Regions from separate parts of the Homo sapiens genome. Here region 1 is linked to region 2. The links come from fine-mapping of genetic effects on gene expression. Tissue or cell type: whole blood. Region 2 holds a variant in brackets; the other region holds the start of a gene. All regions are shown on one strand. Distances are between the middles of the regions.

The links. PIP is the estimated chance that this variant, and not a neighbour inherited with it, causes the effect.
Region 1: it holds the start of ZNF268, and the variant in region 2 is fine-mapped to the expression of ZNF268 in whole blood (INTERVAL, PIP above 0.99).

The regions. Positions count from the first base shown.
Region 1 is chr12:133,178,240-133,183,625 of GRCh38, forward strand. ZNF268 (zinc finger protein 268) reads left to right here and starts at 3,256. Exons shown (of 6, transcript NM_003415.3): 1 at 3,256-3,447; 2 at 3,707-3,791. The coding sequence starts at 3,759. RefSeq lists enhancers at 2,974-3,498, 3,094-3,403, 3,444-3,643.
Region 2 is chr12:133,156,896-133,162,281 of GRCh38, forward strand. It overlaps ZNF10 (zinc finger protein 10), which reads left to right. Exons shown (of 5, transcript NM_015394.5): 5 at 1-2,570. The coding sequence ends at 73. Among named protein-coding and RNA genes, the nearest start is that of ZNF268, 22 kb to the right of the region's middle. RefSeq lists an enhancer at 2,980-3,149. The variant G/C (reference allele first, on the strand shown) is at 3,350.

The sequences.
Region 1 (5,386 bases), 21 kb after region 2:
ATCCTAAAATTCATATGCAACCGAGAAAGAGCTCAAACAGCCAAAGCAATCCTGAACAAAAAGAACAAAGCTGGAGGCATAACTTCACCTGACTTCAAATTATACTATAAGGCTATAATAACCAAAACAGCATAGTACTGGTATAAAAACAGACACATAGGTCAATGGAACAGATAGAGATCCCAGAAATAAAGCCACATATCTACAGCCAACTGATCTTTGACAAAGTCAACAAGAACAAGCATGGGGAAAATACAACCTCTTCAATAAATGGTGCTGGGAAAATTGGATTGCCATATGCAGAAGAATGAAACTTGACCCTTATCTCTCGCCATATACAAAAATCAACTCAAGCTGTATTAAAGACTTAAATGGAATACCTGAAACTATAAACATACTAGAAGAAAACCTACGGAAAACCCCTCTGGACATTGGTCTGGGTAAATAATTCATGACTAAGACCTCAAAAGCACATGCAACAAACAGAAAAAGAGAGAAATGGGACTTAAACTAAAAATCTTCTTCATAGTGAAATAAACAGTAAGCAGAGTGAAGAGACACTTGCAGAATGGGAGAAAATTTTTGCAAGCTTTGCATACAAGAGGGGACTAATATCTAGAGTTTACAGGGAACTCAAACAGATCAACAACAACAACGAAACCCAAATAATCCCATTAAGAAGCAGGCAAAGAACACAAATAACACTTTACAAAAGAAGACATACAAATGGCCAACAGGCATATGAAAATATGCTCAACATCATCACTAAACATCAGAGAAATGCAAATTTAAACCACAATGAGGCCGGGCGCTGTGGCTCACGCCTGTAATCCCAGCAGTTTGGGAGGCCGAGGTGAGCAGATCACCTGAGATCAGGAGTTCAAGACCAGTCTGGCTAACATGGCGAAACCACGTCTCTCATAAAAAATACAAAAATTAGCCGGGCATGGTGGTGGGCACCTGTAATCCCAGCTACTTGGGAGGCTGAGGCGGGGAGAATTGCTTGAACCCAGGAGGCGGAGGTTGCAGTGAGCCGAGATCAAGCCACTGCACTCCAGCCTGGGCGACAGAGCGAGGTTGTGGGGGAAAAAAAAGAGATATTATCTTACATCAGTCACAGTAGCTGTTATTAAAAAGACAGGCCGGGCCGGGTGCGGTGGCTCACGCCTGTAATCCCAGCACTTTGGGAGGCCGAGGCGGGCAGATCACGAGATCAGGAGATTAAGACCATCCTGGCTAACACGGCGAAACCCCGTCTCTACTAAAAAATACAAAAAAGTAGCCAGGCGTGGTGGCGGGCCCCTGTAGTCCCAGCTACTTGGGAGGCTGAGGCAGGAGAATGGCGTGAACCCGGGAGGCGGAGCTTGCAGTGAGCCCAGATCGCGCCACTGCACTCCAGCCTGGGCGACAGAGCGAGACTCCGTCTCAAAAGGAAAAAAAAATCAAAACAAACAAAAACAGGCCGAGCTCGGTGGCTCATGCCTGTAATCCCAGCACTTTGGTAAACTGAGGTGACCGGATCACCTAAGGTCGGGAGTTTGCGACCAGCCTGACCAACATGGAGAAACCTGTCTCCACTAAAAATACAAAATTAGCCGGGTGTGGTGGTGCATGCCTGTAATCCCAGCTACTCAGGAGGCTGAGGCAGGAGAATTGCTTGAACCTGGGCGGAGGTTGCGGTGAGCCGAGATCGGGCCACTGCACTCTAGCCTGGGTAACAAGAGCAAAACTCCGTCTCAAAAAATAAAATAAAATAATAAAAATAAAAAGACAAAGAAGATGTTGGTGAGGATGTGGAGAAAAGGAAACTCCTATACACTGTTGGTGAGAAAGTGAAATTAGTATAACCTATGGAAAACAGTGTGGAGAATTCTCAAAGAACTAAAAATAGAATTACCATTTGATAAAGCAATCCTGTTACTGAGTATCTACCCAAAGGAAATCATTATATATATAAAAAAAATACCTGCACTCATATGTTTATCACAGCACTATTCACAATATCACAGGTATGGAATTAACCTAAATGTCCATGAATGGATGAATAAAGAAAATGTGTTATATATACACAATGGAATACTATTCAGCCATAAGAAAGAATGAAATTGTCTTTTGCAGCATCATGGATGGAACTAGTGGCCACTATCTTCAGTGAAACAACTCAGGCACAGAAAGAAAAACACATGTTTTCACTTTAAGTATGAGCTAAAGGATATGTACACATGGATGTAGAGTGTGGGATGATAGACAATGAAGACTCAAAAGGTGTGGGGGGGTTTCAGGGATAATCATAAATTACCTGACTGGTACAATGCATATAACGTACTATAGGGCGTGGATACCTTAAAAGCCTTGACATCACCACTACACAACTGATGCATGTAACAAAATTACACTTGTACCTCATAAATTTATAAAAGTTTTTAAAAGCCAAAAACAAAAGAATTCTAGAAAACTTGTATCTGCCTCTGTGAATGTCACCTCTTCCCAATACTTAAGATCAATAATGATTAGTGGATATTTTCCGTTGGTGCAAAAGTAAGTAATTGCGGCTTTTGCCATTAAAGTAAACCAATATTTTCCAACTGGCCAATACATGATGTTACGAAATCATGCGTGATAAAAGAATCCATTCAAAGTGCAGTGTAGACCAACGGATTTTATGTAATAGAGTAGAAAAAGTTCATCTACGTGGTTTCAGATTGTACACTAACAAAACTATCCCTTGTTCGACTTGTATCTTTATATACTTTAACAAAAACAACATACGCAACAGATTAAACATAGAAGCAGATATGAGAATCCAGCTTTCTAGTAAGTCAGAAAAGACTTAAAAAGCGAAGCCACTCCTTACTAAATTTTTTCTTTTGTAAAATATATGTAATTTTCATTAAAATATTATTTATGTTAACATGTAATGGGAATTTTACGAATCTGTTATTAAAGTGTAAAGCAAAATAAGACTTTTACCATTTCAGTAAAGCAGGGACTAGAACACTTGTAACCTAATTTACATCCCTCCAACCGTTGAGCCATTGGTGTCAAGTATTTTAATTCTCTTTAAAATTTAAAACCTGCAAGCGCGGGAGCTCAGGGACCTGGCCAGGAAGGCCTGAGCTTCCGGGTCATCTTAGCACGCCCCCTCCCGGTGGCCCTTGGCCGGAGCCCTCCGGCGCGGGAGTAACTCCTCGCAGAGGCCTCTGGGAGTTGTAGTTTTTTTGCCTTTGCCTCTCCATGACGCAATTCCTGTGCGACATACGTAGCGGCCGCCATTGTTCCGCGCCGATGGCGAGATCCTTGTTCCTCAGATAGCGTTCATCGCCCGTCGTGGTCAACGGGCCAGCCGAGTCTGGAGTGGTTGCGAACCCTTCTGGCTGCAGATCTGGAGGTGGAGGCAGTACCCTGGACTCTATTCTGCTGCCCCTTCAGGGTTTGGAGGAGCCGGAGGTGCGGAATTCCTCCGGTTTCAAGGCGGCGGGACGGGACAGAACTAATCTGCCTTAGCTCTCTCCTGCTGCTGACCCGGGGCGGTTGCCTGACCCTAACCTGTGTGTTGGTGAGGGTGTGGAGATGGTGAATCCCGTGCTGTGGGAGGGAAGGAGCCTCAGCTCCGAGAATGGCAGGCAGCCCTGGTGCCTCGGACCCTCCCCCTCTGGGTTTGGGGACTGCTGGGTGACCTCTTTCTTCACTGTGCTCTCTCTTCTAGCATCCCTCGCGTCCTGTCACTTCCAGCGAGGCACACAAAACTGACCGTAGGGATGGCCACCAGGGTCCGGACAGCTTCTATTTGGGTGAGTAGGGGTTTTCTTTCATTCTTGAAAAGCTCTCCCTGAATGCCAACGTGTGCGCACTCCATCTACTCCAGTCTGAATTTGCCAGGAGCTTTCTCACCCCACCGCTCTTTTAGGCAACTGGATCGTCATTTATAGCATGTTAGACTTTCCAGAAATGCTTCTTGTCATCCGACTTCCTTTTTTCCTCCTTTCATCAATCTCTTTTCTAACAACTTTGTACGCTGAACTTTGGAGTTAAACAAGGGATACTCACACATCTTTCAGTTTTTTCAGCCTTTATTTACTGAGGGCCTTCTGTATCTGGGATCTTTAAACCTTATTTTGGAAATTACAAACTTTTTTATTCACTTGTTCAACATTTTTTTTTATTGTATTTTGTTTGCTGGACCCTGGGGCAGGTGCTAAAAATGCAAAGATGGGTTGCTTATCATCCCTGTCTTGAAGAACAGTGGTCTAGGAATGGTGGATAAGAAAGACAATGACAAGTTAATGAGTGCTCTGGGAGCAGGCTGTGGAAATACACGGAGACATGCAGGAATGGGTCAGTTTTGGAAGTAAGGACACCCCCTAACCCCTTACTCCCAAATGCTTCAATGATTAAGAGATTCTTAACCTTAGGTTTGAAAGATGACAAACCTAAAGTAGACAAAGGATTAAAACCAGCCTAGGAAAAAGAAGTAACGTGCAAATTTGAGAGGCTTGAAATGACCTCATGTGGTGAACTTTGGGCACTTTAGGGTTGCTAAAATGTTGAGTTTAATGGTGATAGTAGAGTTATATTAAAAAATGAGGCTAGAGCCGTAGGCCTAAGATCATAGAGGGCTTTGAGGACCCCATTAAAAACTTGGATTGTATCACATAGGGCAGGTGGTCCCCAACCCCCACGCTTCAGACTGGTACCAGTCTGTGGTCTGTTAGGAACTGGGGTGCATGGCAGGAGGCGAGTGGCGGTTTAGTGAGCATGACTGCCGGAGCCCCGCCTCCTATCAGAGGCTGCATTAGCTTTTCATAGCACAAACCCTATTGTGAACTGCGCATGCGAAAGATCTAGGTTGCGCACTTCTTATGGGACTCTAATGCCTGATGATCTGAAGTGGAACAGTTTCATCCAGAAGCCATCGCCGCACCCGACTGCCCGTCCATGGAAAAATTGTCCTCCACAAAACGAGTCCCTGGTTGGGGACTGTTGGTATAGGGGAAGGAGTTTACTTATTGAAGTGTTTTCACAACGGATTTGAGGGTAGAACAGTCTAGTCTGCAGCAGGTAAGAGAATATAAGGGTTTAAGTAAATTAGTGGTTTTGAGAAAGGAGAGGAGGTGGCTGGGTGCAGTGGCTCCCACCTGTAATCCCTGTTACTCGGGAGGCTGAGACAGGAGAATCGCTTGAACCCAGGAGGCAGAGGTTGCAGTCAGCCGAGATCGCGCCACTGCACTCCAGCCTGGGTGACAGAGCAAGACTCTGTCTCAAAAAAAAAAAAAGGAGAGGAGGTAAAGAGGCAGAAGAAATTAGATTTCATAACTAGTTGGGTGCAGTGCTAAGAGAGGCAGAAAAGCCAGGGATGACAACTGGAGTTCTACTCTGTGGGCCTGGT
Region 2 (5,386 bases):
TGGGACAGCGCTTGTTAATACCTCTAACCTTATTGGATACCAGACAAATCATATTAGAGAAAATGCTTACTAATAAATATGGGAATTTTTCACAAAGAGCAATGACTTTATTTTGCATTGGAGAACTCCTGGAGATAAGCTGTACAAATTGAATCTATGTGGAAATGCTTTCAGTCTTGTTACTATCCTATTGCACATTAGAGAATTGGTCCTGGAAGGGAAAGAAACCACAGATTTTATTTCAGTACACAAATCCATCAGATTTTCTTCTTTTCATGAATTCCTACAGAAGTAATTGGCCTGAGAGCATTCTTGACCAAGTCTTAAATGCTAGAATCTGAGAAGGAATTATTAAATAGGTGAGTTGTTGAGCGAGAACCCCTTCATTTGAAAAGAAATGAGTATGCTACTATAGGGAGAGTTGTTGCTGAGAATTAAGAAATGATACAGTTAATGCAACAAAAGATGGAAAATAATATTTCAGTCAATATGTCATTGTTTTCTTGACTATGTCTCTCTTCTGGGACATTTAGTAGTGTTTGGTATGTTTTATGTGTCTGGTAGAAACCATATTTTGGTTAACAGCAAGAAAAATGCTTATAATGTAGTACAATTAAAAACAACACATCTCCACTACCAGTGCTAACCCATTTTTAAGTACATTTGCATGTGGGCAAGAATTGAAAGTATACAGATAATTGAACAGAATTGATTTGTTAGATAAGGAGATTTTGACTGAGTTTTATAGTCTGTTTAATGTTGCTGTAATAATTATTTTAAGAAACTTTTAAATATTGTAAGAGGATATCTAGTTTCTCTATTCTACCATCAAAGAAGCTTTTGAGTACCACCTGTTAATGAGCTTTCCTATTCTAAATTGTTTTGGGTCACAGAGTTCCACTTTTTCCACTCTTATTAGCACTGCAAAAGCTCCTGAGAATTTAAAAACACAGTAATTCTCTGGATGTTAGGACCTAGGGGAACATTGGGCATTTGAACATATCAGGGAGGGTCCCCATTTTAGTGGGAACAAGTATTTAAACAATATTTAGAGCAAGTGTCCTCATGTGATAAACAGAGCACAGTCCAAAGATACCCTCTTTCTCAAGGTAGTCTTTTATCTTTATAAAGAAAGATTAGTGTTTAAGAGCGTAGACTTGAGCTAGACTACCCAGGTTGAAACCCCACTAGCTGGGTGATCTTGAACATGCTGCTTAGCTTCTCTGTGCCAAACTTACTGATATCCTCATCTGTAAATTAGCGATAATAATAGTACTTACCTGGTAGGATTATGGTGAGTATTAAATGAGTAAATGGAAACAGCTTAGAATAGTGCCTGACATATATTATGTTCTCTGTAGTTACTGGCTGTGATTATTAATAATATTGCCGCACCCTAATATCTGTTATTTAATTGAAATCTGCTTGTGTGCTTATAAGAATTTACTGAGTTCTCACTTCCCTTACAGTCATACATGGTTTTTCCCTTTTGCCTAAATCAGAACTCAACAGCCTGGGAAAATCACTGACAAATAGTGGATATAGGTTTCATTTCTGAGGATCAATAAACAGCTTGTAATGTTGTATACACATTTATTCTGTTTGTACAAAGGTTTTCCATTCTATGGAGAGGATCCCAGTCTTCAGATTCTCTGGTAAGTTAATAACCCACAAAAGATTCAGGAAGAGGATCTATTTTAATTTTCTCTTTCATTCTATAAATCAGTCTGTTGTATATAGGGACTGACCATGATTCTCCATTTTCTGGCATAAATATTAGCTGCTCAATGATTGATTGTTGAATGATAGATGAAGTATTGCTGAAGCCAACCAGAGATCTTGATCTCTCTCTGAGGAAAAAACCTAGAAATGATGGTTAGAATCAGGAGACTTGAGAACTACGAGGAACATGGCAGCCTCTAGCTCATACTTGTCGTTGTACAATTGAGATCAAGTGAATTGGCCCCGGTCTCACATTTTCAGTGAAGTCAGACTCAGAACTAGGTCCTGGGTTTCATGTTTCCTGCTGCTCTTCTCACTGTGTACACACCATGCCCACATACAACATACCTATCAGAAATGGTTTTCATTAAGGGAGTAGAATAGTCACTTAACTGGGGCTCTTAACATTGCTAATAACCTGTGGCTCAATTTCCTCAACTGTATAATGAGGTTACTACTAGTATCTACCTCAAAGCGTTGTCATGTGGATTGAGATGATATGTATGAATCACATAAAAGAGTGCCTGGCACATAGTAGGTGCCATTAATAATATTACTATTGTTAACACCTTAAGGGTCTAACTTGTAATGAAGACAGAAATATGTATGAGGATGATCACTGAAATATTTATGACAGTGCATAATTTGCAAAATAAAAAATGTACACTAGCATAATATTTGTGGCATATCCGTGTAATGGAAGATTATGCAGGCATTAAAATATGTACACAAAAAGTTTGGTAAAGGAAAAATGCTGTCATGTGTTACAAAAGCATGATAAATAATTGTTAATATGGAATAAGCTCAAATATGTCAAAATAAATGTAAAAAATGAGTGTTGCCCAAAACTAAGGAGATTTGTCAAAATATTAACAGTAGTTAGCCTATATATTGGGAAAATTGGTGTTTCCTTTTCTATTTTTACACTTTTCAGTTCTTTCCAAAGCCTCCTGAAATAATATATCTTACTTGTAGAATTAGGAAAACAATCTCCTCAGTGATGGAATTTTTTTTTTCTTCAGAAGCTCATACCAAGGCCCAGTGTGTTAGCTCATGCTTATAATCCCAACAACTTGGGAGGCTGAGGGAGGAGGATTGACTGAGTTCAAGACCAGCCTGGGCAACATTGCGAGACCCTGTCTCTACAGAAAGTTTAAAAATTAGGTGTGGTGGTGCATACCTATAGTCCTAGCTACTTAAAAGGCCCTGAGGCAGGAGGACCACTTGAGACCAGAGTTTGAGGTTGCAGTGAATTATCACAGCACTGCACTCCAGCCTGGGCAACAGGGTGAGACCCTGTCTCCAAAAAAGGGGTGTGAGGGCTCATACATATTAATAAGCTACTAGAGGCCCAGCACGGTGGCTTACGCCTGTAATCCCAGCACTTTGGGAGGCTGAGGCGGGTGGATCACCTGAGGTTGGGAGTTCAAGACCAGCCTGGCCAACATGGTGAAACCCTGTCTCTACTAAAAATACAAAAATTAGCTGGGTGTGGTGACGCACATCTGTAATCCCAGCTACTCGGGAGGCTGAGGCAGGAGAATCTCTTGAACCCGGGAGGCGGAGATTGCAGTGAGCCAGGATCGCACCACTGCACTCTAGCCTGGGTGACAGAGTGAGACTCTTC[G/C]TTTTCCGTTAAAAAGAAAAGCTACTAGAACCTTAATAAAGGAATTTAGCACGGTCATAGGATATGAGGTTACAAAAATCAATTTTATTTCTATATGCTAGCAGTGACCAATTAGGAAATGAAATTGGAAATACAGTTCCATTTATAATGATACAAAAAAAGTTAGGTTTTGAAGGAAAGGTGAGGGTTAAAGAGAGAGTGGCTCAACAGAAACACAGGTTTATTGCCAGCAAAAACCTGCAGAGAGGGGACCAGCTTAGTGCCGGAGCCCACTGCTGCTTTCAGGCTGGGGTAATTATAGGTCTGGGTGGAAGGGGTCTGGGTGGTATGGCTTGCTGCCTGGCAGCATTTGATAAAGATGTTCCTGTTGTCAGGTGGTTAGGTAGGATGTTTCTCATGGCCCAAGCCCCTGAAGAATCGCCTTGACCAGGGTCTGTGAAATGGTTGGGGGTTTATAAAATGTTGCAGCTTGGACTAACAGTGACCAATTAGGAAATGAAATTAGAAATATAATCCCATTTACAATGATAGAAAAAATGTGAAATACTTAGATAAATTTAATGAAACATGAAAGACCTGCACAGTGAAAACTATAAAACATTGCTGGAAGAAGTTAAGGAACATATAATAAGAATAAATAACACAAAAGAAACGGAGAAATATACCTTGGTCAAGGATGGGAAAACTCAGTATTGTTAAGATGGCAGTCCTCCCGAAATTAATCTTTATTTTATTTATTTATTTATTTTTTGAGACGGAGTCTCGCTCTGTAACTCAGGCTGGAGTGCAGTGGTGCGATCTGGCTCACTGCAAGCTCTGCCTTCCGGGTTCATGCCATTCTCCTGCCTCAGCCTCCCGAGTAGCTGGGACCACAGGCGCCCACCACCACGCCTGGCTAATTTTTTTGTATTTTTAGTAGAGACGGGGTTTCACCCTGTTAGCCAAGGATGGTCTTGATCTCCTGACCTCATGATCTGCCCACCTCGGCCTCCCAAAGTGCTGGGATTACAGGCGTGAGCCACTGCACCCGGCCAATTTTTTAAAATTCTAATGAATTTTGTCATATACTGATCTGAAGGGTTTTTCAGTTAAAAAGTGCTGGAGAATGCTGTGATAATATGTTTGGGAAATAGAAGCTTTTCACATGAGTGTTCCTGAATCAGTCCTCACTGCCTAGACATTGAACTTATTAGACAAAATGGTGATATCGATAAACAGATAGAAATTATTAAAAAGAACTGAAGAGAAATTCTGGAGATGAAAAGTATAACTGAAATGAAAAATTCAGTATAGAGGTTTAACAGCATATTTGAGCAGACAGAAGGTAAATCAGCAAACTTGGAGATAAAACAATTGGAATTATATGTGTGAGGAACAGAAAGTAAATTTTAAAAAGTGAACAGATTACAGGCATTCCTTGGAGATACTGCAGGCTTCATTCTACACCACCACAACAAAGCAATCAATCATCATAAGGAAGTCACACAATATTTTTGGTTTCCTAGTGAATATAAAACCTATGTTTAGAGGGCGGGCTTCAAGATGACTGACTAAAGGCATTTGGTACTCACCTCATTCACAAAGAGGAACCAAAAATGGCAAGTATATAATCACACTTTGAGTAGATCATCTAAGAGAGGACATATAATTCAACAGAGAAGTGATAGAAAACACCTAAGGCAAGGAAGCAGAGGGAGGTGAGGTAGCCTGCTCAGCCACTGGAGATTGACTGAGAACCCAGAGAAACACCCCAATGTGAGGAAAGGGTATGTGAGAGATTCCCTAGCAGTCCACATTTCCACCATGGTTTCTTGCAATCCTAGCATGGGAAATTTCCTCAACCCTCACAGGCCCTAAGACCAACATAGTAGCTGCCTGGAGACCACATGATGGCATTGCTACAGAGATGGGGCATACACTGGGTCTTACACACACCCTGAGTCCTAAGTAGCTGCAGCACAGTGCCATTTTGAGAGCCCAGACCCTACCACACTTCACCCTGCATTGGTGCTCAATAGCTCCTGCATATCTGCATCC